Regions from separate parts of the Homo sapiens genome. Here regions 2, 3 and 4 are each reported to be linked to region 1. Evidence: microRNA targets listed by miRTarBase, many of them from high-throughput screens and not tested one by one. Region 1 holds a microRNA gene; each other region holds the end of a gene's coding sequence.

Region 1 (8,158 bases):
TTGAAGACTAGAATCATAGGATAATAAAAATGGTGCTACAGTATAATTTATTGCATAACAATATATATCATTTAGGAACAACTAGATTAAGAAAAAATCGATCGTTGAGAAGATAGTGATGTTGGCATATGGATAACAATGGAAAAATTTAGGAAGCAACCAGAGAGGGGAGATTAGAAATCATGTCATGTAAAGAACACAGGTCCCCTAAACTCAGGTGACAACTTTGTCTCAATAAGCGGAAGGTTCCTTCTTGAGATAAACTAAATCGCATAGATAAAAAGCATGACGAGTGGACCAAATGGAAGTACCTTCATGAAAATTATAAAAAGACACCTTCTTCTATGGGTGGATACAGTCCCAGTGTTGGGGTCCAACACTTGGCACATAGAGTGCAGCCTGAATTTCAGCTCCAATGCCGCTCCTTGACCCAGCTTCCATTGCAGCATGGGTGTATGGTTGGTGCTAGAGGTGACTGACTGGACATGAGTAAAGGAAGACAATCCTGCTGTGTTTTACTTCAAATATATAAAAAACTCTCTTGAGGAAGGAATATTCTACTTTTTCTAATGGCTTTACAGGACAGAATTATAACCAGTAGACAACTATTTTGAAATGACAGGTAAACACTTTAAGTAAATAAAACATCTCAAAAGCATGACTGATTTTTTCTTGGGAGACTGTGAATTCAGTTACTGAAAGTAATAAAATGGAGTCTGAATACCCAATTAATAAAGGTTTTATAGAGGTATTCTTTAAAAAAGTACTTTCAAGCCTGTGATTTTATGATTACTTACCAAATAAGCACTGTGGCCAGTAAATATATGATCACAGATAAGAGCTGACTATGGAACGGAAGAAGAAGAGCTTCATTTGGTTTTTGTAAAAGGAATAATCCTTGAACTACAAAGATTCAGGAAAAGAGTAGAAGAACCTCAGGAAACACTTAATTTTTTATATTTGCATATCAGTATAATGTTTACTACAGTTGACTGTGATTTTACATAGGTATCAGATAGCTTTAGCCTAAAAATCCTACTTGATAGATTATTTTAGTATGAAGAGTTGTGGATGAAATCCTGATTAGTCTTTGGCTAGATTATGTGCCTGCATTCCCATATTTTCTAACGTAGATAATGAAATCGCTAGTGTTGTTTTGTGCTTCGAACTCAATTGCTTTGATTGGATGTACTTTAGAGCTAGGACATCATTTCTATTTCAAAACGGAGGTCTTCAGTCAGGACCTGACTTTGTTAATAAGTGTACAAGTATAAAGTATCTATATTTCACTGAAACAAGAAAGTAAGAATAATAAACATCAAATACCTTGTTTTCACTGAATGTTAACTTGGCCAACTAATTTAAAGAAAATAAACTTTTTTCTGTAAACAATGTAAGTTAATAGAACAGTTTTTTTCCCCCAAATACTTCAGCAATAGAGAATGCTGAAAGAAAACAGAAAAATGGAAAGAGCCCACTAAGAAGGACAAAGAGGAACCTGAGCTAGCAGGTTAGTTACATAGCTAATGTTATTGCTTCTGTCTTTTCAAAAGATAAATAGAAGGTCAGGAAGATAAAGATCCTGTTTCCTGGTTCAAGAGGTTGCTGAGCATCTTGGAACATACTCTACCTTCCAAACCATAGCCCTCACTGAAGATTAGAAACAGTTTCTGACAGATCAGAATATCTAAGAGTTGGTGTTTTTAGCCAAGTAGAACATTGAGTCTAGCAAATATGTATACAAATACCTATTTCTGGTGATAGCAGTTTAATCAGAATTGTAAGAAATAGAGGAAAATAAACACTGGAAAAATCGGTGGTACAATGAACTCAGTGAAACTCAAACACCTTACTATTTGAAAAGAAGGACTCACGTTTAATTTGTAGGAAGTCCATTCATCAATATTCATTTATAGAATGTTACCATGTGACAGGCACTTAAGATAAAAACCGTAGCAGCAACAGCAATAACAACAAACACAATACCCTTTTCTTCATTGTTTTTTTTTTTTTATTTCCTTGTTGGCTTTATCTAACAAGCTAACTAAAAAAAACGACATTTCAATTCAAGTAACATTTTTTAAATGACTAGAAATGTACATCTTTATGGTACACCAACCGTACTTGAATTTAGGATATTATTATTGTTACTCAGTTGAAAGTATTGTATGTCAACATGCAGAAGTTATCTTCCTTAATTTTCAGTCTCAGTCAAAACACCTCAAGTGACTCAACTTAAGCTTTCCTAGGATTTATTCCATAAATACCTTTAACATATACATATGTAAACCCTAGGAGTGCATATCACTTTTTAATATACATATATGTTTAATTCATTGTCCCCATTTCTGAATGCTTTACTATGATAGATTCTGAGAAGTAGAAATCTTGGGTCAAAAGCTGTGAGTTGTTTAAGGCTCTTCATTCATAATGGAAAACTGCTTTCCCCAAGTATATCATTACTGGGCTTTCAACAACAATAAATATTCATATTCATATAGTACATTTTTATTCTAATTTGTTCTAATCACCATTTCTCTTTCATTGCTGGCCAAGTAGAACATATTTTTATAAGTCCATTAGCCATTTTCATTTCTTTTTTTCTGAGGATTGTTTTTTCTTGTATTTGGGCTCATTATTTTTTAGTAGATAGGTGGGAATTAAGTACATTAACTCTTTACCTTTTATATAATTTGAAAATATTTTTCTCATTTTGTTGCTTGCTTTTACATTTTTATGTTTTTTTTTAATTTTTGTTTTTGAATTTTTGTTTCTGTTTTGTTTTGTTTTTGAGGCAGGGTCTTGCTCAAATTCTCAGGTTCAAGCAATCTTCCTGCCTCAGCCTCCCAAGTAGCTTGGACTATAAGCATTCACCACCATACCCAGCTAATTATTTTTATTTTTTTGTAGAGACATGGTCTGACTATGTTATCCAGGCAGGCCTGGAACTCCTGGCCTCAAGCATTCCTATCACCTTGGTCTCCCCAAATGCTGTGATTATAGTCCTGAGCCACCAGCCTGATCCTTTTTCCTTTTATAAAATAATTATATATCTATTGTAGAAGATTTGGAGAATACATACAATCACATAGAACGGAATAAAAATTACCTATATCTCCCATAGATGGCTATTGCCAACATTTTTACTACAAATTTATCTAGTCTTTTGTAATAGACTTATATAACTATAAAAATATACATATTCTGTATTTAGGAAAACAGGATGATATTGTACATTCTGTTTATAACCAACTTTTACTTTTTACTAAATAATAGATAAGAAAAACTACATGTTTTTACAGCATGGTTTATTTAGTGTATCTCCTTTGAGAGATTTTTGGTTGTTGGCAATTTTCACCATAGTAAATAGAGATGCACATCCTGGTAAATAAATCCCTCTATTAGTAGTATTAAATTATAGAACTATAATTTCTTGTGAAAAAGGAGGCATTTTCTAAAGCTGCTGATGCATATAACCAATCTGCTCTCCAAAAAAATTTACACTGATACAGTAGTTTAAGAAGATGCTAGCTTCTCTATACTCTCAACAATACTTGGTATTTTTATTAAAAAATCACCACCAGAAAGTAGCTTTGCCAATATGTAAGTTAAAATTAGCATCTCCAGTGTTTTCCCTTTCCCTTGATATTCATTCTTCTAGTCATTCAACAAGTAATTATTGAGTATGACCATGGATGAGGCACAATGTTGAGTCCTGAGAAAACAATAATAACTCTTCCCTTTCTGAATCACTATTCTCCCTTTCTTGAGTCAAAGAAAGTCTGGACAAGGGCTTTTCCTCTCAAGTATCCAAGTATCTCAAGAATATACTATATCTCTCCTATTTCTCAATTATATCTACTCAGGACATTCTAGTTGGTTTCTATTCTCATATCGCCCCTACTTTAAGTGGTAGTTCCATATGCATGACCTTTTTTTGAAATTTTTTTGACACAATTCTGATTTTTGTTGAAAGCAGTGTATTGCAGAGGGTATGGACAAGCCAGTTAAACAATGAGCCTCTGGTAGCAATTGTGAGATAAAATTGAAGGGCGATTGGGTGTTGTAGAAAGAGGGTAGATTTTGCATCAGAAAGACCTTAGTTCTCACCCTTGCTGTGTATGTAACCTTGGGAAAATTACTTAGTTGCCTCTTTTGTAAAGAGTGGCTTATAACACATCTCAGAATAAAAAGTTCTAAAAGGGTACCAGCCACCTGGTAGAATGATGAATTTTTGGTTCATTTCGGCCAAAATTTGTTTGCTACTTGGTCTGTCCTCTTTCAACAGCCTTTTCTCTAGTTTTGTTTCCCTTTTTCTTCCAAGGCATCCTTAGCCTTTCCTAGTGGCCCTGGAAAAATCTCAATTTGGGATTACCAGCCTGGGCTTTCTTTCCTAAAGGATGTCTTATGTTATGACTCCATCTTCACCTTGTTCTTGCATAAAATTCTTTTCTCACGGGACCCTGTTTTCCATAGTGATTAACTAGTTTTCAGGGAAACTGTGAGTTTCTTAAGGGCAGAAAACATGTCCTGTATTTACTGTCTTTGCATCCTTGATGCTTACCTAGCAGTGTCTGGCAGACTGTGAGTCCTTGATGATTATCTGTTGAATGAATGACTACTCATCTAAACTTGGATGTTAGGGGCTCAGGTGTTAAATCTCAAGAACTTATATACTCTTAAGATATTCTTAAATGTTATTGTTTTCAGACATGAGGAAATCTGTCGGTTCTGTGTATACACACACATACACACACATATCCATACAAACATATATATATGTATGTGTGTGGATGACATGTGTGTGTACATGTATGTATATCCCATTTTGATGTCCTTTTTAAATTTCTTTACCTGAAGATATCCTACATACCTCAAGACTAAACCGAAATATCTTTGTCCCTGGAAGGCCTCTACAGGTCTCTGATGAAATAAATCACTCATTTCTCAATGCTCTCCAAGCACTTTGTCTATTTACTCCCATTGCCTTTTCCTTTGGTAGACTCTAATCTTTGGATTCTTAATGCCCAACATACTGAAAAAAAAATATTGAAAAAAGTGTTCACTAATCATTTGGCTGAATGAGGAGGGAGGCTAGGCTTAATCATTCATGTGGTCTTAAGTTTTAGCTTGTATAAAGGAGAAGCCAGTTTACAATGAACTTAGAGGGCCAGATGCAGTGGCTCACACTTATAGTCCCAGCACTTTGGGAGGCCGAGGCGGATTGCTTAAGGCCAGGAGTTCAAGACCAGCCTCTGTAACATGGCAAGACCCCCGCCTCTAAAAAAAATAATAAAAATAAAATGAACATGAATTTAGAGGATAGTAAGTAAAAAGAGGTAATGTGTAAAAAATAATTAGTGGTTAGGGAGATGAGGAAATAGAATAGATTTTGATTGGTGGTTCTATAGTTTACGGATGTATGTGTCCGAGCCACCTTTCTCCCACTCCAGCTGCCTCTAATCTCTGACTGGTGCTGGCAGGAAATCCACAACAGAAGGCAGCACATTGCATGGAATTTACGTTATAGATAATGCTCTGCCCTTATAGACATACTACTTTCAATTGATGATTAAATGCCAGGAACCATGGCAGAGCTAAGGGCAGATATTTATACCTCTAAAACACAAGCGGAGACCTCTGCATAGGAGTGGCCCTGCAGAGACCAAGTCCATGGGCATTACTTACTTAACTCATTAAAGGAAATACGTGGGTAACCAGAGCTGCAATGGAAGGCAGAGGAGTAAATAAGGACCAGCTTCAGAACCAAACTGGTTATCTTGAAAATCTATCACTTCACCCTTGCAATAGCTCATAACTCTGTATTGTAAGTAAATTCAATTATCATGCTTTTGATTCAACCTTTCAATCCAAGGACGATGTTCTTAAAAAAATTGGACTTTAATTTCATAAGCCTTCTAGGAGATGTTTAATCTTCTGAGAGAAGTCTTTTGTACTTCTGAGAAATTTTCATTTATCATATATGTCCTTAGACCATCACTGAGTCTGCAGGCTTTCCCCCACTCTTATCTCCATATTTTATACTGAATACCTATCTTCCACTTCTCAACCTTGAAACATTAGACAAAACCACACTCAAGTTATCAGTGGAAGAAATCTACCTGAGGAAAATTCTCGGGAGCTCCATTAATTGACAGATGGACACTTCCTGAATTTCCCCCAGCCCTCTGCCTGACTTCCTTACTCTGGGGTAAAAAAACAGTGAATTTAAGCACGATTGAAGAAAAAGGATTTAGGTTTGGGAAAACTTTTGTTTCTCTTAATATTTCTGCTTTGATTCCAGGGAAAAGAATGAATGTCATTGTTTCAAATACGAAGAAATCTGTTGGTTTTGAATTTGCTACCAGTTATCCACCCATGTGTGGAATCAACATATATAGGAAAGAAAAGGAGTCTGACTTCTTAATTTTAAAAAAATAAAACCAATGAGACAGCAAGTGATATTCAATCCTATTAAAGAGACTAAGCACAGACCTTTTAAAAAGTCCTTATGTTCCTGGCATTGGGATTGTGTGATATGGCTCCACAATTCAGGAGGACTGGAAATTACAGAACATCTGCAATGAAATTGGTTTTCTGTGGAAAACTGATGAATCACTTACTGCCAATGACTAGAAGGAAAAGCACTTGCTTATGCCCTTATGTAATGAATTTTTATGAGGTGAAGTTTGCTGTTTATAAAAAATACTTTACGCTGCTGTAGATGTAAAATAATAGAATTCAGAATTCAGAGCAATGCATTATTGCAAAGACAGTCACCAGCAGAATATTATCTGCTTACAAAACACCAAAACAGGGCTATTACTTTTATAATGGAATTAAAAAAAAACAAACTTCATCTACCCAGTTGGATTCTAGAAGAAAAAAGTATTTAAAGAGACATAGCTAAAATTGACAGCTCTGAAATTGCATGTATTTTCAAAGCAAAGTTATTAATTCTCTTATTGTGCTCTTGAATTCCAACTGTTTTTCTCAAAGCAAGAATGCCACAGGATATTTTAAATTAATAATGGCAATCCTAAGATACACTACAAACCTGAGGTGTGGCCTTTCCACAACATTATATACATGCATATAGAATTCTCCCTACGCTAATACCATCAGCTGCTCTGCTCAATCTTTGTGAACGGCTTGATGATCAAACTTCAAACTCTCTTGGTTTCTACAGACATTTACAGAGCATCTGTATTGTGTCAGTCGGTTTTTGGCTGTAGTGCCACAAAAATGAGAAAGATACAGTTTCTGTCCTTACTGAGCTGAAAGGCTATTTTGCTGTTTGAGAGAATCATCAAGTTGAACTGAGAAATATTCCACTAGGTCTGAGAAGGAAAACTAAGAAATAATGCTCACGATATTGGATGAGGATCCTTGCTCTTAAATTTTTTTTTTTGACCTCTATATTTAGTCTAGAACTAAGTATTTTTAAAGCAAGTAATTATAATTTCAATTAGTGAAAAAAATTGTAGTATTTTATTATTTTTGGTGACTAGAAAGGCACTCTTACAAATTGGCATGGATTTAAAATAGAGGCTGTCAGGAGAGGATGATATTTTCTGAGTGTATGGTGAGATATATTTACCAAGGAACCATTCTGAAAACCTCAAGAACAGTAAAGACTTCAGCTCCAATAATTCAGAATTGCGACTATTTATTTTATATATTTTCTTGACAAAGAGTCTTGCTCTGTTGCCCAGGATGGAGTGCATTGACGTGATCTCAGGTCACTGCAACCTCCGCCTCCCAAGTTCAAGCACTTTTCCTGCCTCCGCCTCCCAAGTAGCTGGGAAAGGTGTACACCACCACACCCAGCTAATTTTTACATTTTTTAGTAGAGACGGGGTTTTGCCATGTTGGTCAGGCTGGTCTCAAGCTCCTGACCTCAGGTGATCCACCCACCTCGGCCTCCCAGAGTGCTGGGATTACAGGCTTGAGCCATGGCGCCTGACCAACTGTGACTATTTAGATTAGGTCTCAGTTGAGATTCAAGTTTGCATTGTCTCTTATTGGCAGCCAAACCATAACAATACTCAGAAACGTCGACATTTTGTGTTGATATCTGGAAGAAATACAAAATCCTAGGTCAGACCCTGTATCTTAGATTCTTAGTTGTGGAAATATAGTGACTTTACAAGCTTAG
Region 2 (8,158 bases), not on the chromosome of region 1:
AGCTTATAGCTTTCTGGTTCTATTCCTGAGTCTTAGTGCTTGTGTAATGTGAGTCTACCTCCTCCACTTCCCCCTGCCACCACCATGGCCCCATTCCCAGACCCATTCAGTTTTCCGAGCCAGACCCCAAAGCAAGCATGTTCCCTTTGGGAGGCATCCTGGGAGAAGACCCCTGCACATCACCATCAGCCTGGTATGCTTTTCCTTTCCCTATGTAAGTGAGCTTAGCTCCCCCCGCCAGCTCCCAAGTAGCTTCATAAACCTTGTTGACCATAAGTTTTAACAAGGGAAGTAGCCAAAGTCAAAGACTACCAGTATTGAATTGTGTCTTCTAATCTTGCCCTAGAAGAATTACTGGCTGGGTGCAGTGGCTCATGCCTATAATCCCAGCACTTTGGGAAGCCAAGATGGGAGGACTGATTGAGCCCAGGAGTCTGAGACCAGCCTGGGCAACATAGTGAGATCCTATATCTACCAAATTTTTTTTTTTTTTTAATTTTTGAGGCAGAGTCTCACTCTTTTGCTCAGGCTGCAGTGCAGGGGCACAATATTGGCTCACTGCAGCCTCTGCCTCCCAGGTTCAAGTGATTCTCATGCCTCACCCTCCCGAGTAGCTGGGATTACAGGTGCGCACCACCAGACCCAGCTAGTTTTTGTGTTTTTAGTAGAGACGGGGTTTTACCATGTTGTCCAGGCTGATCCCAAACTCCAGACCTCAAGTGATCCACCAGCCTTGCCCTCCCAAAGTGCTGGGATTAGAGGTGTGAGCCACCATGCCTAGCCTCTACCAAAAAATTTTAAAAGCCAAGTATGGTGGTGTGCACCTGTATTCCCAACTAGTCAGGAGGCTTAGGTGGGAGGATTTCTTGTGCCCTGGGGTCAAGGCTGCAGTGAGCTACGATCACATCACTACCCTTGAGCCTGGACAACAGAGTGCGACCCTGTCTCTAAAAAAACAAAAACCTGCTTTGGTCACTTGAACTTTGCCCAAGGTCAGCTGTGTTTTTGCTTTTCGTTGTGTATATCTTCCACGTGGGTTAGCTGTATTTAAGAGACTGATTTTGTACAAAGGATGAGAAGGTTGTGGCTGTGAGTTAGGCTGTGGCATGTTACTACCTCCCACTTAGGTGTTGTTTTTGAGGTAACCCAAGTCCCTGTTAGCTTTTCACACAGCACTATTGATAATGGTCATGGAAAGACTTTTAATTTGGTTCTTGCTGCCATCGTTTCCTTACCAGAATGGCACCAATTTCTCCTAAGACGTATTCATGTCTATCACATTTGTCTTTGCCAGGAACTTTCAGGACCAGCTTCGAATGGAGGGATCAGCCAGACAAACACCTATGACGCCCAGTATGAGAGGTGATTGACTGACGTGACTCTGGAATAAACCAGGGTGAACACAGGCCTGGACACAGGCGAGCAGACGCGTGGCACTGTGCATTTGGTCCTCAGGCAGATGTACGGTGCCACAAACTGGCAGGAAAGACTAGAAAAAGTAGGCCAGGAGCGGTGGCTCACGCCTATAATCCCAGCATTTTGGGAGGCCGAGGCAGGCGGATCACGAGGTCAGAAGATTGAGACCATCCTGGCTAACACGGTGAAACCCTGTCTCTCCTAAAAAAAATACAAAAAATTAGCCGGGCATGGTGCCAGGCACCTGTAGTCTCAGCTACTCGGGAGGCTGAGGCAGGAGAATGGCAAACCCAGGAGGCGGAGCTTGCAGTGAGCCGAGATCGCGCCACTGCACTCCAGCCTGGGCGATAGAGCGAGACTCCGTCTCAAAAAAAAAAAAGACTAAAGTGTTGGCTCTCTTGCTTCCTCTTGTGGCAGTTACTTATAATAACTCTAGACTCTTGATAGCAAGTTTCCAGGAATGGGTGATAGAATTGCTGACTGGTTCACAGGTCAGTGCCATTGGGGGAAACGTACTGAGTCAGTTTTTTCTGATTGGTTTGATCTTCTATGAATGATGTATGATCACAGGGCCTAGATGTCCTCAGTGGGAAGTTTATATAATTGTAAAGATAAGGAAGTTTGGAGGAACAGCTCCAGAGATTACGGGAAAAACCGCGAGGATTCATTTTACGAAGACTTATACTTAAGGTGTCTATGAGAGCCTGTTGATGAAGAACCTGAGTTTTGCTTTAAAACAGATCCAAGTTCAATTCCCAGCCCTATCACTTACTGGTTGGGTGGTCTTGGGCAAGATTGTGGGGTTTCTCACCCGTATACAACACCTACACCGCCAGTTATGTGGGATTAATTGGCATCATGCATATTAAATGCCTGGCACAGTGTGCCCTTGGTAAGCGGTTAAGAAATGTAGTTACTGCTGCCACCATGATGATGATAGTAGTGACTCTCCCTTTTTATCTGTTTTCCAACCCAGGGCCATCCAGGAGAGCCTCCTCACCAGCACAGAAGGCCTGTGCCCCAGCGCCCTGAGCGAGACAAGCCGTTTTGATAATGACTTGCAGCTAGCCATGGAGCTCTCTGCCAAAGAGCTGGAGGAATGGGAGCTCCGGCTCCAGGAGGAAGAGGCTGAGCTCCAGCAAGTCTTACAGCTGTCACTCACTGACAAATAGACCTTTCAGCCTGTGAGCCTCTGCACAAAGCAGAGGCTGTGGGCTGTCACAGATGCTGTGTCAACCAGGGCCCTAGGGCTAAGGGCCTGCACCTTGCGTGCATGCAGCAGGCAACAACTGCCCCTTCTTTATGCAGAGGTGCAGAACCAGGGACTCCTGGGCCCATCCAGGCTGCTCCCTGGGGTGGAGAAGGGACCAGGGATTGCAGGCCCCATCTCCAGGCTAAGGGGAGGAGAGCATCATCACTTTCCATTAGCTGTATTGGCTTGCAGGTCACATTTTTACTACCAGCTTTAGACAAAACCCCAATCCCCGCAGGTTTGTAGATAAATTTTTATCAAGGAGTGATAACAAGACAAGTTATTGCAGAGTCAGGGTGCTTTTATATATAAGAGCAGCAGCCGCCTTTGTAAAGTGTGATCTATGAGAATTGGAGACACTTCTTTACTGTTCACCAAAGAAATGGGTAATCTGTGCTGATCTCCTTATTTTTACCTTTTTACAGGGTTTCTAGGACATTGTCATTATTCTTCCTCCATCTATCTGATTCCATTCCTTCCACACCCAGCTAAAGTTAGAGGAGATACATATAGAATCTATTTTAGATTATTGTTAACTATTTGCATCAAATTAAGATACACAAATGGCCATGGATGTTGCCTTAGCCTTAAACATTACTAATAGTTTCACATCACCTCACTGCACGCATCGAAGGATCTGATTTGAATTTGTAAAGGCAATTCTTTTGAGAGCAGGATTCTCCAGGCTAAATCAAAGGCAGCTAATCCTGTCCCTGAAGGAGCAGCTAGGGGAACCTGAGGCTTGTTCTTGAAGTGGGCAAGCTGGCCAAAATATTGGAACACACAGAACCAAACCAGGTGTGTTCTACACCTGCATGAGTGAAGGATTTCCACGTAGACACCTAGGAAGAGCCCGCATGCCCTAGACTCACTCCAGAGGAAGGATTGATTTGCAACCAGAAAGGGAGCTGAAAACCACGGAGCTCCATGGCTCTTCATTCAAAAGGGAAAATAATGATTCCACGTTGCTTTTTAGAGTTCAAATCAACATCTTTCTGGATAAATCTATTTTTTAACAATCTTTTTATTATTTGTAAAAGATATAAAAACAACTCCCATCAGTAGCAATACAAGGTTATACATTTTAACCAGATTTTCTCAGGCCTTTTTTGGATACCTTTAGTAGTTAACTCTCTTTTGTCAAACCCTCTTGTATATAACCATCGCACAACATACAGAACCCTGGGGAATACAGCCAAGGGCACTGCTCACTGTGGCCCGTGTATTCATTCCCACAGGCTGCACTGAAATAACCTGGTAAACAACACCCTCCTCCATTTTGCGTCTATTTCTTCTATTGTGCTTCTTTGGGGATAGGAAGAGAAACATAACTACTGTTCCAGGTAACGTCTGTATCATACAGTTAGTGTTGCCAGTGAAACGTTCCCAGATACAAAGAATTGTGCTTTTAATTCCATTTCACAATCTGTTTTGTTTTTTTTTTTTGTCATTGTCTGACCAAAATTCCTTCTGCACATGAGGCCAGTATAGGCAACGTCACATTTGTTTGTTTCAAATATGCAGTGTGGTATTTTGTTTACTTTGCATTTACCGTGAGCAAAGATACTTCTTGGAATGGCTGCAGTGAGGCCGTGTCATTGGCTCACAAAAGTGACTCATAGGTAATTTCTGTGTTTGCATTCCACTGCTCTGCTCCCTAAGGTCCTTGACTTTCTCCCCAGGAATTCACTTAAAAAGGGACTGAGCATTGTGTCAACCTGTTGCAGTGTTTTTCATATATGTGTTCACTCTAAAAATGCAAATAAAGACTGCTTCCTTAGAGGGTGCTCATACAAAATTCCAGTCTTTGAGTCTTTTTCCTTTTCAGTTTTTTCTAGTCACTGGATGTACCCACACTTCCTGTTACGTATGTCAGTAGAACATTAGAATGCCTCACTTCGCTCAGTTCATCACTGCAAAGGTGGCATGCTCCTCCCAGCCTTCCTGCCCAGGTTAACAAGCCCCATGCTGCTTGTTTCAAATGGCAACTAAAAGCAAGCCAGTGTTGGGCTGTTCTGACACCTCTGTGGTCCTCCTGGAGGGGAACTGGCTCTTGTGGGGTAAGGGAAGCCCAGCCAACATCAAAGCTCTGCATCAATGCTATCCCTTGAAGCCAACTGCTTTGTGAGGCTGTTCCTAGAAGTCCAGATGATAAGGCTTCCAAACTCTTCCTATATCTAAATAAGCGGGTATTAAAAACAACAAAGGCAGTGGCCAGTAGAAATGTATGGGTTCCAGAAATGAGGCTGTATTTCTGGGAAGATGTAAAGGAGCTGCTTTGCTTTTAGGGGAAAGTAGATATCAATACTTTGAAGCCACAAGGACACTATGAAGAAAACCATTACTCTTTCAGGTCAAGAGGTGCAATGACTATGGATTATTTAAAAACTGAAAAGCTAAGCTTGAGTGGCCCAATATCAGCAGGAAGTGGTTTTTTTTTTTTGTTTGTTTGTTTTCCTGAGACGGAGTTTTGCTCTTGTTGCCCAGGCTGGAGTGCAATGGCGCGATCTTGGCTCACTGCAACCTCTGCCTCCCGGGTTCAAACGATTCTCCTGCCTCAGCCTCCCGAGTAGCTGGGATTACAGGCGTGTGCCACCATGCCTGGCTTATTTTTGTATTTTTAGTAGAGACGGGGTTTCACCATGTTGGCCAGGCTGGTCTCGAACTCCTGACCTCAGGTGATCCACCCGCCTCGGCCTCCCAAAGTGCTGAGACTACAGGCATGAGCCACCGCACTCGGCCAGAAACTTTAATTGAGCAACTTCTGCACGTTAGACACTGCTAGGAACTAAGTTCCTAAGGCACTCTGCTCTATAAACAAGCTTGTCACACTACATAAACGTGGCATGTCAAGGGATTGAAAGTCTGCTCTAAATAATGACAGGAAAGGGAAACTGCCATAACTGCCAGCTTGGTCGCAGTCTCCTGCTGACCACAAATGACATCAAGGAAGATGAACTGGATGTGGAGATTTCAAGTGATTCAGTGGTACAGTGAGTGATGAAGTTCAAAGTACCACCTAGGCCTCTGTTTAGAAATATGTGTAGGTTTAAGCCTGAGGTCCAGGTGGAAAAAAATACAACATGCTGATATGACTCCACAGTCACTAAATCATAGGCAGCACTAGGAGACTTTTATCTCAACTTTAGGCCAGGCGCAGTGGCTCACGCCTGTAATCCCAGCACTTTGGGAGGCCAAGGCAGGTGGATCACCTGAGGTCAGGAGTTTGAGACCAGCCTGGCCAACATGGTGAAACCCCATCTCTACTAAAAATACAAAAAAATTAGCCAGGCATGGTGGCTCATGCCTGTAATCCTGGCTACTCTGGAGGCTGAGGCAGGAGAATCGCTTGAACCCGGGAGGTGGAGGTTGCAGTGAGCCAACAATGCACCATTGCACTCTAGCCTGGGCAACAGGAACCAAACTCCGTCTCAAAAAAAGAAATTTCACTTCACAGAGCTTCTTTAAGTGATTAGATCAAATTCAGACACACACCTGCATTTCAAACACTTGGGAAATAACTGGTGGAGTAAAACAATATATAGGATTTTACTTTAGTTTTAATTGACGTTTTGCTCAAAAGCAAAGAACTGAACATTTCAATGGTTCAATGTTACAAGATTACAAACAAAATCCTTACACAGTTACAGTATCCTACTTCGGTTACTTCACATTAAATGCAGGTTGTTAAAATCAGTGCTGTGCTTGAACACAAGATAAGCATTTCAATTTAATAACAAAATTAAATCTAGCACCTTGAAATAAATATTGACGACAGCTTTATAAGTATGAAAGTATCATTTCAATAGGAGGAAAAAATCCAGTTCACCAACAGTGGAAACTAATAGCAGCATTTTCAAAGCTGAGATGAAATTTGTGTAAACACACACTGGCCCGCACAGTGGACATGCACTTCTGTTGGCTGGGCCCTCCCCACCCAGGGATGAACAGAGTGCCCACTGAGCCTTTTACATTCCAAATCTGGAAAGCTGCCTCAAGTTTCAGACCGTGGGCTAGAAAGACTCAAATGCAGGGCAAGGGAGATCAATGTGTTTAAGCAGGATGGGGTCCTTTTTGTAACAGGCCAACCTAGTAACATTTCCAGTCCAACTTCAGAGCATTCCAGGCCAAAGGTGCATATAGTAACAGGTCTACCTGATGTGACCCTGACTTCAGGGGGAGCACCTGAGTGCAGGGCAGGATGCAGGTGAGGAACGAGGGCCCAAGATCCCCACAGCTGACACCACTTTGCAACCAGCGCATTCTAGGCTAACTCAGGTGAGATTAAAAAAAAAAATCTGTGATTCTTAACCCACTGTAACCAAATGGTTCTTAAATAGGGAATGTCTGCATGGTAAGTCTCCTTCTTAATAACATTTTCAAGCATTAATGATGAGTTCTTTACAGTGTGGTTCTTACAGGCACTCACAAGGTTACCATGTTTTCTTTCTCATGAACACTCCATCTTTACACTGACCTTTGGAGCTTTCAGGTCTTACTTTTAACAAGTACAGTCAGAAACACTGAGAAGCGGACTCAGGGGCCAATTATTTGCGCTACAGTGTTAGGAAAAAATAATGTCTAGTACATGTTTTCTTCTAATTCATTTAGCATTTACCAACTGTCCAGACCAAAGGTCATTTCCAAGTAGGAAAGTTTTGGTTCCAACTTCTCCACTGGCCTGTGTGCAACACAACTTATCCTATTCCCAAATACTCATTGAAGAACTTGTCTGGCTGTCACCGACGCCGAATGGGCTTGTAGACACAAAATGCCATAAGGATGACAGTCACCAGCAGGATGCTGAAAATGGTTCCCATCAACACTGCAAAGGGAAAACAGGTTACTTCCTAATGGCAGCTCCAGGTTAGGCAATTCATCCACTCACTGCCAATGATTTATCAAATGCCACTTGCTGCCAGGCACTATGTCAAGTGCTGTGCAAACAGCTGTAAACAGATCCTCTCTCCAGTTGTCTCTAAATATAGTTGGGGGAGAAACAAACAGATGAGAGCATTTCACATAGCTTGATATACCGTGAAAAAAAAAAACAGTAACATGCTAGGGATGGAGACAGGGTGGGCAGCAAGAAGGGGGGACAGTCAGGAAGCATCCGAGGAGGAGACTCACAAACTAAGACAGGCCGAGTGTGGTGGCTCGTGTCTGTAATCTCAGCACTTTGGGAGGCCTAGGTGGGTGGATCACTTGAGGTCAGGAGTTCGAGACTAGCCTGGCCAACATGGTGAAACCCCGTCTCTACTAAAAATACAAAAATTGGCCAGGTGTGGTGGCATCCGCCAGCTACTCAGGAGGCTACTCCTGAGCTACTCAGCTACTCAGGAGGCTGAGGCAGGAGAATCGCTTGAACCCGAGAGGCGGAGGTTACAGTGAGCCGAGATTGCGCCACTAAGCGACAGAATGAAACTCCACCTCAAAAAAAAAAACAACAACAAAAAACTGAGACCTTACGAGTGAGGCTCTGCAGGGAGC
Region 3 (8,158 bases), not on the chromosome of region 1:
AGATTATCTCATTATCACTACTTTTGAACTATTTGGCTACAATATGCCTTGGTTGTTGCAATGGTTTGAAGGTGTCACCAAAACTCATGTGTTGGAAACTTAATTGGACTCCCTATGCCAGAGTGTTGGGAAGTGGGGCCAAGTAAGAGGTAATTGGGTCATGAGAGCTCCACCCTCATGAAAGGTGTTGTCATCGGAGTGGGGTAGTTGTAGAGGAGGTGGCTTTGTTATAATAGCAAAACCTCCTTCATATGGGCTCTCTTGACCTTCCACCTTTTGCCCTTCTGGCATGGAATTACACTCACCAGATGCCAAAGCCATGCTCTTGGACTTCTCAGCCTCCAGAACTGTAAACCAAATAAACTTCTTTTCTTTGTAAATTACACAATCTGTGGCATTCTATTACAGCAGCAGAAAACAGACTAACTTGTTTTTCTCATGTTTCTTGTCCTTGGAATTTTTGAGACACTTGGATCTGGAGGTTATAGTTTTCATTACAAATGAGAAATTTTTAGCCATTATTTCTTCAAATTATTTTTCTTTCCTGCTCTTCTCTCCAGTTTCATACATATTAGATTCTTGAAGCTATTTCACTATTCTCTAATACCCTGTTCATTGTTTAAATTCTTTTTATTTCTCCTTTTATAACCCTTTTACTGAGATAATTTACATACCATAAAATTCACTCTTTAAAATATACAATTAAATAGCTTTTAGTACATTCACAAATTATGTAAACAAACATCATCATTATTTCTAATTCCAGAACATTTTCATCACACCAATAAGAAAACTCATACCCATTAGCAGTCACTCCCAGACCCCCACAGCCACTGGCAACCATTAGTCTACTTTCTATCTCTACTGATTTGCCTATTCTGGATATTTTATAAAAATGGAACGGTACAACATGTGGCCTTTGTGCCTGATTTCCTTCACTTAGAATAATGCTTTCAAGGTATACTCTTGTAGCATGTATCAGTACTTCATTTCTTTTATTGTTGAACAATCCAATGTATGAATATGTAATTTTTATTTATCCTTTCATGAGTTGATAGACATTTGGATTGTTTCTACTTTTGACTATTATAAAAAATGCTGCCACAAACATTTGTGTACAAGCTTTTGTGTGGACATATATTTTCATTTCTCTTGGGTAGAAATCTAAGAGTAGAATTGCTGGGTCATATGGTAACTCCATGTTTTTTTAACCTTTTGAGGAAGTGCCAAGCTGTTTTCCAAAGCAGCTGAAATATTTTACATTTCCACCAGCAGGGTAGGATGGTTCCAATTTCTCCACATCCTCACTAACACTTGTTATTATCTGTCTTTTTTATTATAGCCAACCTATTTGGTGTGAAGTCATATCTAATTGTGGCTATGATTTATGTGATCTTAGTGGTTAACGATCTTCAGCACGTTTCTATGTGCTTATTTCCTGTTTGCATATTTTCTTGGAAGAAAAGTCTATTCCAATCCTTTGACCAGTTTTTAAAAATTTGGTTTTCTTTTTATTAAGTTGTAATAGTTCTTTATAAATTTTGGTTGCCAGTCTCTATCAGATATATGACCTGCAAACCTGTTCTGTGGGTTCTATTTTCACTTTCTTGGTAGTATCCTTTGGAGTACAAAAGTTTTTACTTTTAATTAGATTATTTAGAGTCAATGAACATATTAATATGCATCCAATCTCATTAGAGATTAAAGATAAAGAGAAATAAGATTTTTGTAACTTAGAAGATTGGCAAAGATGAAAATAAGAAAAATTAAATTTATCATTAGCAAAGATTTAAGCACTCTCATAAACTCCTGGTGGGGTTTTAAATTGAACAAGTTTTCCTGAGACTATTTGGCAATGTATCTCAAAATCCCTAAAAAACAAAAATGAAACAAAACAAAAAATCTCTGTATCCTTTGACCCAACAATTCCACTTCTAGAAATGTATCCCAAAGAAAAAGTTGAACAACTTTGCAAAAATGGATTTTATTATTGGAATGTTTATATAACAAGAAATTAGGTGAGTAAAATCTAGCAATAGGAGATTGGTTAAATATATTCTGGTAAGCCATATAATAAGATACTGTATAATTATTATAAATGACCATTAATTTTTTTTTATTTTTTAAAGACAAGGTCTTACTATGTTTCCCAGGCTAGTCTCAATTCCCAGCCTCAAGCAATTCTCTCATTTTGGCCTCTCAATAAATGATAATTTTCATCAAGTTTCACCACCTATCATGTCCTTAAGGTCCAGATGTAACATAAATGAATGAAAAGGCTCTCTAGAAAATTGGACAGCATATGCCCCTTTTGGAGAGGGCAGTTTCAATTAACTGATGCCAAGCAAGAAAGTATATGTGTGGTGGTTGTGAGGTGGGGAGTGGGAGGTGTTCTGTGTTGTTAGATTATCCAGTATTTTAAAACATGCAGGACATTGAATTGTACGTAACATTTTCTGAATTTCAAAAGCTGTCTATTGCTTAAAGATTTTTTTAAAAAATGTTCAATGGCCAAATAAAACACATCATTTTTGGACTAGATTCAGTTCAAATGCTTGGAACTCTAATGTAAATACACATTTATTGACACAGAAAGATATCCATAACATATTGTTAAAATTTTAAACACCCTGCTACAAACAGTTTATATAATATCTCAATTTTGTTAAAATACAAGCATATTTACATATATGTATAAACTCTAAACAGTGTCTAAAGGGATATAAATCAAAATGTTATTAGTGGGTAATTTTGCTTTTCTGTTGTATATAGTTCTCTATTTTTGTATTTTTATATTGACCATTAATATTTTATATTCAGAAAATAAATGATACAGTTCTTTGTATCTGTGGTTATAAAGGTAAGAGTTAATAGTCTGGTTTAAAATGTTAAGAATAAACTTAAAATCAAAATCACTAAGTATATAATCTTGCACATGAAATCAGACAGACCCAAGTTCAAAATCAATTATTCCATTAATTACCTCAGTGGCTTTGGGCTTTCTCACCTGTAAAATGCCAGTGATAATACCCGCCATCTCCACCTCAGATCCTATTGGTGATGTAAAAATGAATAAATAAAAATAGAATTAATATCTAAAACACTACATTCCTAGCATCACCAAATCTAAGTAGATAGAAGAGAGAAGGGGGCTTTTTCTACCACAGTTCAAGTCTAGAAAGGAGACAGATGCTCCTCATAGAATGTAACAATGTCATGGAGGCATAATACACAAAAAAAAATTGTTTGTTTTTGCTATTCTATCTGGAGGCAGGAACATCACAGGAGACTAGGAGACTTTTCCCTTGCCACCTCCACTCCCAGAATCCAAAGCTCCTCCCTGCTCCACATCTCACTCCCCATCTAGCAAGGACACCCAGTGGAATGAAGCAGAGTATGGCTGACAACCCACTGCCAGAAATAGCATCAGATGAGGCAGAATCCATATTACGTTTTTGAGAATTTTTGGGTGGGTCCTAAGTGTGAGTAGAGCTCTGGGACAAATAAAATAAACTAGAGAAGCTACTTCCAAGGATTGGATTTGACCCTGGAGTAAATAAATGTATAAATATTGTTTGAGAGTTTGTCATCCTTTATCTCCTCTTCCCACCTAACTGTATATCCAGTAAAGACATGGATTTACCAAATAGAATTCAAGTAGATGAAGAGGTACACTAGTAAAATCAACCAATCAGCTGATGTAAGGTGGGTTTTGTTTCTGTCTATAGAACCTCTTTTTCACCACAAAGGGCTTAACACCTGCATTCCACTATTCCTCCTACCAGCAAGTTAAATATAACAGAGGGTAAAGAAATTTTTTCAGGCCATTGTAGCATCATTGGAAACTTGCCTTCAAATGACTTCAGGTACCTCCTCCTCGAGTGCCCAGTTTTAAACCCAGGGAATAATTTCATCATATCTGGTCCATGGAAATAGCAAACTCTTTAAGATATTTTTGATGTAGTAACCCATTTTCATTAGCTTTGCTTTTTCAATTCACAATAAAAGAAAACAATAAGTGTTTTTTTCATATCTTTACTCTTTCAGTAATGTGCAACATAAACATAATAGTGTTAAGAAGTCAGAAATAACACAGAAGCTATAGGAGATGTTTATATTTGCAAAATTTCAACAATTATCTTCTCTAGGTTTCCCCAAATTAGCATATTTGTTAATCAAATTAATTAAGAAGCTTTTCAAAATAAAAGCAATGCTTTAAATAAATATATTCTTTCATAACCATAGAACATTTAGTTCTGTTGGAGGTAACAAACATTACACTCAAGTACTTTATGAAGACATTAGGGTAAAAATTACCTAGATGCAATTATAAATGTACCCTAATTAGTCATTTCTTTTTGCATGTATGCTTTTCTGTGTGTGTTAGGGTTATATCATAGATGTGTGGTAACTGGTTAGCTCTTAAATTATCACAAAGATATTATCGGACCCACAGAATTTATATCAGCTCAATGTGATGATATGATATTGTTTGAACAATATCTTTAAATTTAAATTTAGTACCCTAAATTACATCCAAACAAAGCCAACACCTCTAAGCTGCCATATCTGTTATAGAAAATGAGTGCTAGACTCTCAGCTTGGAAGAATGAGACCTTCCTACAAATCTCGAAATTATACAACAATATTATTGTCACATCAAAATCCTAATTGCAACAGAGCTTTCAGTGTGTTTCAGAGTACCACACAGGTAGGTATAAATTCACTTATGATCAGCTTTTCTAGTGAAATCATATGTTTAGTAAATGACTACAGAAAACTTCCTAAAAATTGATTTTATTTAATAAATATTTTTTAAAGTTTTCTGACTGAAGAAATGACCTTGCTAATCTTTTTAGAAATTCTCATCATCTGTTTAATCTTTCATTCACTTTTATTTCTACTCTGATTCTTAGGAATTTTTCTAATCTATATTTAATCTACCAAAACATCTATGCTTTGATAAATTTGGCTTCCTTCAATAATAAGCTATGCTAAGATCACTAAATTAAATGTCAAAGGCAGAGAAGTCAAATTAAACACAGCAACAGGTTACAGTAAGTGCTCTTTAGAATTTCAGATTAAAACAATTGTCCCAAAATGATCAAGGAATAACTCACTAAATGAATAATGCAACACAGAATAGATTTTAACAGAATTTCTCTCTCTCTCTCTCTTTCTCTCTCTCTGCCACACACACACACACACACACACACACACACTCTTCCACAGGCATCCACACAGGGGTGTTGACACATGTCTCAGAATTTAAAACACTGATACTAAAGGCTTTAATTTAGATAAATTAACTACACTGAAATACTGACATTGTGAAAATATCTATGTCCAATACCCCATATAGGGCACCATTTTGTGAACTTATAAAACATTTAAAGAAAGAAAACAAGAATGAGAAACCAGAGTCCTTGATAAGATGGGTGAACGTGTCGATAATGCCCAGAGTCACAGCTTCCCATTCTCCTCACTACTTTCCTTCTCCTCTATGGCTTCCAGGCTGCGCTTGCTCTTGGCCTCAGCACTGCTGCTGGGGGCTTTACTCAGTCCACAGGACAGGCATGCCAGCTGGATCTGCTTCATGTTTTCTATAGCTTCATTCTTGGCATTCTTCAACAGATCTCCTTGGCCCTACAAACAGAAAAAAACAGGCATCAAAGAAGACAGTTATGGGCCAGGCATGTGCTGAGTGACATCACTCTATGTTCTTACTGCCCATTGCTGAATAAGGAAACAGACCCAGACCTGCAAGCTCACTTTTCCAGGGTTTAACCCAAGGTTCTTTTCTAACATTATTAAGTGACTTTGCTTGTTAAGCCAAGTACCTCAACCTGAGCCTGACCAGCTGGCTATGCAATTGCTGGCAGTCCGTTGAGATTCCTATTGTGAGGAATCCTCCTCTTTATGTGCTGAGGACATCAACTCTTCCATCACCATGGTCTGAGACTCTGCACACTGCTGCAATACCTACCCCGCCCAGATCCAGCATTCCTAGTCTTGGGAGAAAACAAGGAAAGAAGCTCTTCCTTAAAGAAGTGAAAATAAAATCTCCCCCTCTGTACAAGAGCTTACAAAGCAAAGTGTCTTCTGTAAAGTAAGTCACATACCCTTATGCTTGGTGAGCTGGTTTTTAATATACTGGGTCATCCTTGCAATCTGCCTGTTGTTAAATTATCAGTCACCCACATTACTTCTGCCTTTTCCATCATCCTGAAGATGATGTTCCCACCTGGCAGATGGAGAAAAAGAGTCTCCAGAGGCAAAACAAAAAGGAAATGAGGATTGCAGGAACACATTAGCTGTCATTTACATCAGTGCCCAACAGAGATCTTTTCCTGCTATTTTTATTTCTTATTTTAGTTCACTGTTATGAAGATAAAGTGCGTATACTGATACTGGCCCAAGGGCTGAATGACTGAGTGTGGGGAAGCAGGGACAGGTGTCTATGGCCCATAGACAGAGGAAGAAGTAGCTTCTTCCCTCTCCTCTCCATTCTCATGGCAGTGCCTGAAAGTGTGACCTTGAAAGGACAATATGGGTGGATATGGGGTTATGACGATTGCTGGAGCATTATTCTACAAAGCAGAGGCTCAGAGAAAGGATAATTTACCTATTTTATGAAAGGCCAGTAAATGCTTTTTCCTTAGGGTGTATGAAGAAACTTGTATTTTACAAAAGCTTGGAATATTTTATTTCTCAAAACCTAAATATGCACTTGCCAATTCTATCCTCTGTAAAAAATAGCTAAATCCTTCTAATAGCAGCTTTTAATTATATGGGATGATTAAATAGTTGGGCTTTGCCTGATGTTTGTGTTAAAGCGAACTTCTTCTCAAGTACATCAATTATGGTATGGGATTTTGGAAGAAGAGTTGGAGGTGGACAGTTTTGCCTTCTCCTGAGGAGAAATGAAGCTGAGCCTGATGAGGTTAATTGACTGTCCCAAGGTCACAGCTGGTTAATCGCTGAGCTGGGACTAAAGTTCAGGCCTTTGGCCTCCTGCATCAATGCTCTATTCCCCACACCATGTTTACAATCTAGTCTGAGACTAAAGACTAGAGATTAGAGCCTAAAGACTCTGTCAGTGAGAGATGTATTTTCTAAAGAAAAAATATTTACTACACCAGCAGACTTTGGGAAGTCTGTTCTTAACACTATAGACATCACGAATGAGTCTGCTCAACAAAACTGCACATTCTGCACATGTATCCCAGAACATAAATTTAAAAAAAAAAGTGAAGTCACATCCACTTTGAAAAGTGCAACTCTTCAGTAATAATAATAACAGACCAACATATGAAGTGCTTGCTCAGTGTGGTCACTCTTTGTGCTTTATACATGTTCATTCAATCATTCATTACAACATCCCTATGAGATGGGTACTTTCATTATTCTCAATTTACTGATTAAAAAAACTGAGGCCCAGAGCACAGTCACCCTTCCCAAAGTCATACAGCTGCTAAGTGGTAGAGCTGGAGCTTAAAATCCAGCAGCTGGCTCCGGGGTCTGTGGTTTTAACCACTACCTGATAGGCATCTTTTAACAGCAAAGCAGGCACTCTCTGCAGGGCACCCTAGAGACTCCTATTCATTGTTACCCATGGAAGCAACGCAGATAAAAAGAAAAGCATTGCCCATGTGACACAGCCTGACACAATTTAGAGATAGCATCCAGAATCAGGAAGACAGGGCAGAGCAAGAACACACTAGCAGGGACGAGGGTTGGAGCATCTTCAACCAATTTTTATCTGGGCCATTTTCTCTTCTGCAAAAATGATGAAAATATCCTTCAGCCTTCCTTACAGTTCTAAGATTAAAGACAATATGTTGAAGAGCTCTTTATGATTTAAATGATCATAAGTATAGGAATCACAATGATATAAGGTGATTTAGAAAGTGGTTAACATTATCTGCTACTATATATAATAAGTATCTTGGTACTATCTATATTTTATTAAAAATTTGACTAACATTTAAAATGCATCTACCAGAGTCTGTTTTACAGAGATATGTATAATGTATATGTACTACTATATTTTTAAAGGAATCTTTCCATTTATAAAAAATCTATTAGTAATGAGACTATATCCTCCTTCATTTTCAGAGTATTACTTTTAAGTGTTCCCTTTTCATTTAGTTTTGAA
Region 4 (8,158 bases), not on the chromosome of region 1:
GGCGTGGTGGCACATGCCTGTAGTCCCAGCTACTTGAAAGGCTGAGGCAGGAGAATCGCTTGAACCTGAGAGATGGAGGTTGCAGTGAGCGGAGATCGCGCCGCTGCACTCCAGCCTGGGCAACAAGAGCGAAACTCCATCTCAAAACAAAACAAAAAAACAAAAACAAAACACAACAACAACAAATGTGTTTTCTCACCTTGCAATATTGATAACCTTTTTTGTTGTGATGAGAAGTTCCAGTTCCGTTTAGTGGTAATGTGACAGTGGGCATTACCGGTGTATTCGTTAGGATACTGGTTTGGCTACTTTAATGAAGAGGAAAAAAAAAGGCTTTAAATAAGATGAAAGTTCCTCTCTTATGTGAAGGTCTGAGCTAGTAGGCAGACCAGGAGAGACAGGTGGCTCTGTCCATGAGGTTAATGTACTTCTGGTATGCTGCCCTTTCCCACATGGACAAAACTGGTTTGCCATGACCACGTTCATGCTCCAGATCAGAGGAAAAAGGGAAGACAAGAGAGGAGCATGCATTTTCCTTTTAGGAGTGTAGCCTGGGAGATGTAAACTCACATCTGCTTCCATGCCATTGGTCAAAACTTCGTCCCATGGTCACTCCTAACTACAAGTTAGCCTGGAAAATACACTTTTTTACCAAGGGAGCCACTGCCTAGCTAAAACTTTTGGGGAAGGAGCAGTTCTGTTAATGAAGTGAAGCGTGGGGAGATTGCTGTTGTACCGTTGTCTTGTTCCTAAACTGATGACATATATAACCTACCAAGTAAAAGAAGTTTCATAGATTTAAGGTTTTTCTCCCAATTAAAAAATAAATTTATGACCTGGCATTCATATGCAAAGAAATATAAATAGGCCAGATGTAGTGGCTCATGCCTGTAATCCCAGCACTTTGGGAGGCCAAGGCAGGCAGCAGATCACCTGAGGTCAGGAGTTCGAGACCAGCCTGCCCAACATAGTGAAACCCCATCAAATACAAAAATTAGCCAGGCATGGTGGCGTGCACCTGTAGTCCCAGCTACTCAGGAGGCTGAGGCAGGAGAATCACTTGAACCCAGGAGGCAGAGGTTGCAGTGAACCAAGATCGAGCCACTGCACTCCAGCCTAGGCAACAGAGCGAGACTCCATCTCAAAGAAAAAAAGAAATATTAGCCAGGCGTGGTGGTTCACACCTGTAATCCCAACACTTGGGAGGCTGAGGTGGGCAGATCACTTGAGGTCAGGAGTTTGAGAACAGCCTGGCCAACATGGCAAAACCCCGTCTCTACTAAAAATACAAAAATTAGCCAGGTGTGGTGGCATACACCTGTAATCCCAGCTACTTAGGAGGCTGAGGCAGAAGAATCACTAGAACCCAGGAGGCGGAAGTTGTAGTGAGCCAAGATCGCACCGCTGCACTCCAGCCTGAGCAACAGTGAGACTGTGTCTCAAAACAAACAAAAAGAAATATAAAGAAAAAAACTAATAAACTCTATCATATGCTGTTCCTATATATACTGATATACATGCCCATTTCTTTCTTTTTTCTTTTTTTTTGAGACAGTCTTACTCTGTTGCCCTGGCTGGACAGTGTAGTGGCCTGATCTCGGCTCACTGCAACCTCCGCCTCCCAGGTTCAGGTGATTTTCCTGCATCAGCCTCTGAAGCAGCTGGGATTATAGGCACCTGCCACCACGCCCAGCTAATTTTTGTACTTTTAGTAGAGATGGGGTTTCACCATGTTGGCCAGGCTGGTCTCGAGCTCCTGACCTCAAGTGATCTGTCCATCTTGGCCTCCCGAAGTGCTGGGATCACAGGCACGAGCCATCGTGCCCAGCCCCATTTTTCAATATAGTGAAAATATCAATGGATTCTTGTGATGTTGATTACTATTGATATGCACATAAGCACAAGTGAAGAATTTGTAATTTTGTTTGATTCAAATATGTAGAATTGGTTATATAAATAGAGTATTATGTTTTGCAGAAGCCAAAGTGCTATACTTAGTAAAAATTCAGACTGTAGTGTGGGAATTAACATTTATTTAATGTGTTAGTACAGGCCAGGAAATTTGCATGTAATAAAAAATATCTGACATTTGAAAGCCTACCATGTGCCAGGCACAACTTAATAAGGGAGTTATACCCACTTTATAGATAACAAAACTGAGGCACAGAGAGGTTAATTTTTATTTACTTATTTTTTTATTTATTTTTTTGAGACGGAGTCTCGCTCTGTTGCCCAGGCTGGAGTGCAGTGGCACGATCTCGGCTCACTGTAAGCTCCGCCTCCCGGGTTCACGCCATTCTCCTGCCTCAGCCTCCCGAGTAGCTGGGACTACAGGCGCCCGCCACCACGCCCGGCTAACTTTTGTATTTTTAGTAGAGACAGGGTTTCACCATGTTAGCTAGGATGGTCTCGATCTCCTGACCTCATGATCCTCCTGCCTCGACCTCCCAAAGTGCTGGGATTACAAGTGTGAGCCACCGTGCCTGGCCTGAGGTTAAGTAATTTACCTAAAGTTATACAACCAGTAAGTAGAAACACTAGGCTTCGACGCCTATGATCTCTCCACTACATAGCATTGCCTCTCAATCACTATTCTCTTCAATGATGATAGCACAGTGTAACAGACAAGTGCTAGTCTAGAGGAGTTCAGGGTATGATTGCTTCTTTCCTAAAACTTCAACTCAATACCCTAGGAGACTTCTTTGGAAAATTAAATTCTGAATTCATTAATAGAAATTCATTTTACATTAGATCTTTTGGGAAAACCTGTTTTATAAATTTAGGATTGCCACAAGGCAGGTAGGTAGAAAGTCGATACGGAATTTGAAAGTACAGCTGCATAATACCAAGACAACTCTGAAGTCGAAGGAAAATGCTATTTAGTCTTACATTCCTGTTTTAAACATGTATTTATACTTAAGAATGAACATATCCTTTATTCTAGTCTTACAATTTCATTAAAGTTGAACTGATGTAGGCTTTGTAAATCTCAAAAAAGTTTGCCTGAAATGATATGTATAAATGATCTCTGATATTTCTACCTGTTGGGACTTTGAATATAGTCAGTAAATTAGCTAAAAATGGGAACAAGTCTTTTGATGGAAAAAAGGAAATAAAAGAACTTGCAATGAAAAAATATGTTGACTGGACTACATAAAAAAAATTTCTTTCTCGGAAACTGCTCTCTTTCTTTGTAATTTTACTAATTGCTGGGTCATACCAATAAGGTCAATCAGAAAAAGAGATTTCAAATTCTTTTAAGACGTAAAGAAGAAGAACTCACCCATCAAATACAAATATACTATTTTATTCTAAGGGAATATTTCTGTGGTTTCTGTAAGGGGAAAACCTAAAAGTGGTTAAAAACTGAAAAAGAACAAAAAGGATGATTTAGATGTTTTTGTTTGATGTTTTTTTCTCCCCTGGAAAAAAAATGTAATTTTACACAATTTTCATAAAATTAAAAAAGCAATAATCAGACGCACACATCAACAGCTACACTTATGAGGAATGACCAATAATTAATCAATATTTTCTCTTATGAATAAATTTAGGGTTCTGGGCAACTCTGTGGACTAACATGCAAATGAAATCCTGATACAGTCATTTATCTGGGTATTGGGTGTTCTCAGTAAAAGATACAGATTTTTTTTTCTGGTATTTCATAACAATTTATCTACTATGCTAACAATATTTGTTTTTTCATACAACTACAGAAGGGGAAAATGTTAGTGTTTATACAAACCATAAAATTCGTATAGTGGGGACTATTACACTTGCTATTTCTGGATAGTTTATTGGCAGACTTATCAGACAATCCAATTATTTGTCCTCCATATCGAACAAGGTATGGAGTAAGAAGTTTTCCAGTCAGAAATGACAAACACAGATGGAATTAATCATACAGAATCGGGGTGGATTTACTTCTTTCATACAGTTCTTGGTAACAAAAATGAGATTTGTTACAGGCAGAGGGACAGAACCACCAAGTACACAATGTCAGAAGGCCTACTTTTTTCATTTTAGTTTTACTTAAATGCCTTTTATTTGTTAAAAAAGAAATACACCTGCCACCCCCACCTAAAAAATGAGATACCCTGAAAAGTCTTTCAAGATTAAAATTTCTAAGAGGCTTTTTGACATCTCTCAGTTTTATCATAGCGTCAAATTAACCTTAGCTGAAGAAGTTCTGCAATTGGCAAACGTCATAAAAGCTTTGATTCCAAATTTTGTGGGGAAGAAACTGAGAATGGAGATGAGGGAGATGGACTGATATGCCACACACACCTATGACTTGCAATCCTCATAGAACTACTGAAACAGCTAGAGTTTGGAATAATGCTCTAAGACCTGCTTATGGATATGCAAGACAATGTCTTTGTATCCTCACCCCAGAATCCCTATTTTCAAGTTTCAAGGGCAACAAGGTCATCTTCCAAATGCTTTATATAGGAACCTAACTAGGACCTTTTCTATCATAATTCAGATAGCTAAGTAATACTGTATCTTTGTGGAATCACTCACAGGTTTGCCAGAGTAAGAAAAGAGACTATCCTTTTTGAAATGACAAGGGCCTCCAGAAACTGGTGCAAAAGACAAAATAAGAGGAACTGTTTGGGAAATAGGAAGGTAAAACAACGGGAGAAAAGCTGCCATTGGGGAAAAAAAATGAAAATAAAAGGAGAACCCCCATTTCTCTGTACCACAGCTCAGGCTGTGAGACAGCTGCAATAAGGGCCCACACCCAGAGAAGGGGCATTTTAGTGGGTTTCTACAAACATTTCAAGACACTTGGGGTCTGATAGGCTCCACAGATTTTCTGTGTGCATAATTAGTTTGTGGAATATCATCCCCTTTACCTTAGTTTACCCACATCCAGACCCACCGCTGAGAAGGCTTGATCCAGAAAATGAAAGGGACACATTACTGTTAACAGCAGTGAAGGTCATTTTCCCTGATGTGAGGGGCCCATGGCAAAAGCTTCTGTCCTTCACATGATTGGCTTGGCAGTGAAAATCAAAATCAATCAAGACCACTTCACTATCTTTTTTAAAAAGTTGAGTATTTTTATTGGGTCTTCAAATCTGGGTCCCACAGTCCTCATTTGATGTCACTCTTAGCTCTGTACTGATCTCTCCTCTGACTTTTACGGAGGGCTTGCCAAAGTAGCCTATTGCAGCCAAAGTTTCACTCCAAAGCTACCTCTCTAAGGTCTAAGGTTACTATGGTAAAGTTTTATACAACAGTTTTCCTTAAAAATATTCCACGATTTGTTACTCCCAAACAAAATAAGATTATGCACCACTCGGAGAAATTAGTCATTCTGAAGATGTCTAAGAACTATATCACTGCCAAAGAACATTTCTCAGTTCATATTCTTTCCTTCAATTTTCATTTGCACATCCACACTGTGGGGTTCACAAGTCATCTGTTTTCCATGATCTTATGGTCAAGTCAAGAGGACTTAGACTTATACATCATTTTCCAACAGCTGGATGCATTCACAGTTTGGTGCATACCAATATGTATGAAAATAAGAACCTCACTTCCGTTTTAATCTGATAATTCAACATCAGAGTCTTCAGATTTGGCTTTGGCAAGTTCTTCATGTACCTCCCTCACCATGAGAATACGTGTTAACATGGTGTCCAGGGTTCCAGGGTCTATCGGGAATGTGGAGTACCACATGGGGCTATTCGGGACACAGGAGCGCTCAGGTTGAAGGTAAAACACATCATTCCTTTGCTTCACACTTTCAGAACTATCCACAGGGGAAAAAAAAAAAGAGAAAAAAGAAAATTAGAAATCAGAGAGTATAGGAAATATGTACTATTCTTAAGTAAACTGAGGTTTTTGCCATTAAAAGTAATTAAAAGTAAGGGCAAAAACTGCAATTATTTTTGCACCAACCTAATATGGCTCTCAACCTTTCTCCACTGTGACTCACAATGGGGAAAGCAAGGTACCCACAGAGATAAATAGTTTACAGGAATATTTCCTCCCAGGAATCAACTGAAATCACAATGGATTGGAAGTGAGTATAAAGTTAATATAAGACAAAGTGTAAATCATAAACTTTAGTACTTCAAACATTATTAAGAGCAACAAAAAAGTCAACTCACATGTGACACTATGGCCAAGCACCACATATTGGAAGTGCCCAATATCCTGGAATGAACTCCAAGGGCACTCAATACACATTATCAAAGGGCAAATGAAGCTATTACATTTCTTTCAGAAAAAAAAGTGTTACAACTCTAAAATCATAAAGTTCCTCTAAGAAAAGGACTACTTAGAAAATTTCAATTCCTTAAAAATTGTTTTTCTATTATAGCTTTAGCAAAACAAAATTTCTTTTCTATACAAATAACAAAATAACTACAGATTAGGTATCACATAAAGGTTGTACAACAGTTGTAAAGATCAAACAATAGCAGTGATTCTTGCTTTTGAAGACATTTTCATAAAATAATTATGAAGACAAGGTAATTTGTTTTGTGGTTCAAAATCCACATAGATATGACAATGGGGAAAAAATTCATGGTAAATCCTTGTCTAAAGCCACGGGCAAGCTACTTTTCTGATGTTCAAGCATCTGAAATCCAAAATATGTTAACTGCCTTCTGAGTGCACTACATTCAGTTCAGAGAAAGATTACCATTTTGACAGGTAAAACTCATAAAGTCGGACTGGGCATCTTAGTGGATTGTCAGTATTCTCTGCCATCTCCACCCCCACTGGAACCTCATCATCTTCATTTCGTTTCCTCTTGCCAACAGTCAGTTTATCTTGAGACAGGAAATAATAATCAAAGGATTATATTAGAAAAGTCTATTCTTTGAGTCTCAAGACACCAATGAGCTTTGCTTCGCAGCCAGAACTTTGTCATTTCCTCCCTTTCACTCACTCACACTCATTCAACAAATACTGAGTGCCTATGAAGGTGCCAGACATTATTTTAAGTGCTGGATTCTATGGCATTAAACAAAGTCCCTATCCCATGAATTTTATGCTCCCCTGCTCACCAAAGTGGGGGCACCATGACAAAAAGTATGGCACTGGCACTGGAAAACGTCTCTATTCTGAGCCTGACTTTATTAATAAACTTCATTAGGCACAGGGTTCCTGAGACATATCAAGATAAAGCAGAAAGAAGGGTTCCACATGTTTTTCTCCTACAGTAGAGATCAAGACAGAAGTTGCCATCTCTTTTTTTTTTTTTGAGACGGAACTTTGCTCTTCTTGCCCAGGACGGAGTGCAACGGCGAAATCTCCGCTCACTGCAGCCTCCACCCAGGTTCAAGGATTCTCCTGCCTCAGCCTCCCAAGTAGCTGGGATTACAGGCGCCTGCCACCATGCCCAGCTAATTTTTTTGTATTTTTAGTAGAGACAGGTTTTCACCATGTTGGCCAGTCTGGTCTCGAACTCCTGACCTCAGGTGATCAGCCCACCTCGGCCTCCCAAAGTGCTGGGATTACAGGCATGAACCACCGTGCCCGGTCGCCATCTCTCTTTTAAGAGACAGGGTCTCACTCTGTTGCCCAGCCTGGAGCATGATGGTGTGATCACAGCAGCCTTGAATCTCCGCAGCCTTGAACTCCTGGGTTCAAGTGATCCTCTTGCCACAGCCTTTGGAGTAGCTGGGACTACAGGTACAAGCCACTGAACTCAGCAGAAGCTGTCATCTCTATGAGAATATTTCTACTGTGGGGCACTAGTACTGGGCATCTGCTCAAGTTTATTTGTTCGAATATTGTGAGAAATGGCATCTTTGTTGGGAAGAGAAATTATCAGCAGAGTTACTATTTGGTAAGAAAAGAACAAACCATTTTTCCCCAACAGTATTTTGCAGAGGCCAAGCATTATATAAGGAAGTCAGGGTGAAGATACGGAAAGTGGGCTATTTCTTTCCCACTTTTTCCATTCACTCCTCAAGAGAACACTAGATGGACCTAAGGAAAAAAGGTTTTCTTTCTTTTTTTTTTTTTTTTGGGAGACAGGGTCTCACTCTGTTGCCCAGGCTAGAGTGCAGTGACTCCATCACAGCTCACTACAGCCTCAAACTCCTGGGGTCAAGCAATCCTCCCGCATGAGCCTCCCAAAATATTGGGATTACAAGCATGAGCCATTGCACTCAGCCTATATCTGCTCTTAACA

The links. Region 1 holds the annotated microRNA hsa-miR-3149 (UUUGUAUGGAUAUGUGUGUGUAU, at 4,748-4,770, opposite strand). A microRNA usually pairs through its seed, bases 2 to 8, with sites in the 3' UTR of a target mRNA and lowers its output. Matches are read on the target gene's strand: a 7mer-m8 pairs with bases 2 to 8, a 7mer-A1 pairs with bases 2 to 7 and ends in A, and an 8mer does both.
Region 2: miRTarBase lists ANKRD13A as a target of hsa-miR-3149. Seed matches in the 3' UTR shown: 7mer-A1 at 4,059-4,065 and 8mer at 4,458-4,465.
Region 3: the mRNA of PLCL1 is a reported target of hsa-miR-3149. Seed matches in the 3' UTR shown: 7mer-A1 at 2,840-2,846 and 7mer-A1 at 2,782-2,788.
Region 4: miRTarBase lists ZMYM4 as a target of hsa-miR-3149. Seed matches in the 3' UTR shown: 7mer-A1 at 4,378-4,384.

Annotation. Positions count from the first base shown.
Region 1 is chr8:76,962,031-76,970,188 of GRCh38, forward strand. MIR3149 (microRNA 3149) reads right to left here and starts at 4,820; the gene lies at 4,738-4,820.
Region 2 is chr12:110,034,967-110,043,124 of GRCh38, forward strand. It overlaps ANKRD13A (ankyrin repeat domain 13A), which reads left to right. Exons shown (of 15, transcript NM_033121.2): 14 at 1,295-1,362; 15 at 2,393-4,797. The coding sequence ends at 2,588. It overlaps C12orf76 (chromosome 12 open reading frame 76), which reads right to left. Exons shown (of 2, transcript NM_001389625.1): 2 at 6,211-7,493. The coding sequence ends at 7,408. Among named protein-coding and RNA genes, the nearest start is that of C12orf76, 9.5 kb to the right of the region's middle. RefSeq lists an enhancer at 7,533-8,046.
Region 3 is chr2:198,144,268-198,152,425 of GRCh38, reverse strand. PLCL1 (phospholipase C like 1 (inactive)) reads right to left here. Exons shown (of 6, transcript NM_006226.4): 6 at 2,563-5,646. The coding sequence ends at 5,464. Among named protein-coding and RNA genes, the nearest start is that of LINC01923, 230 kb to the left of the region's middle.
Region 4 is chr1:35,417,073-35,425,230 of GRCh38, reverse strand. It overlaps ZMYM4 (zinc finger MYM-type containing 4), which reads right to left. Exons shown (of 30, transcript NM_005095.3): 29 at 6,659-6,788; 30 at 3,173-5,761. The coding sequence ends at 5,554. Among named protein-coding and RNA genes, the nearest start is that of ZMYM4-AS1, 55 kb to the right of the region's middle.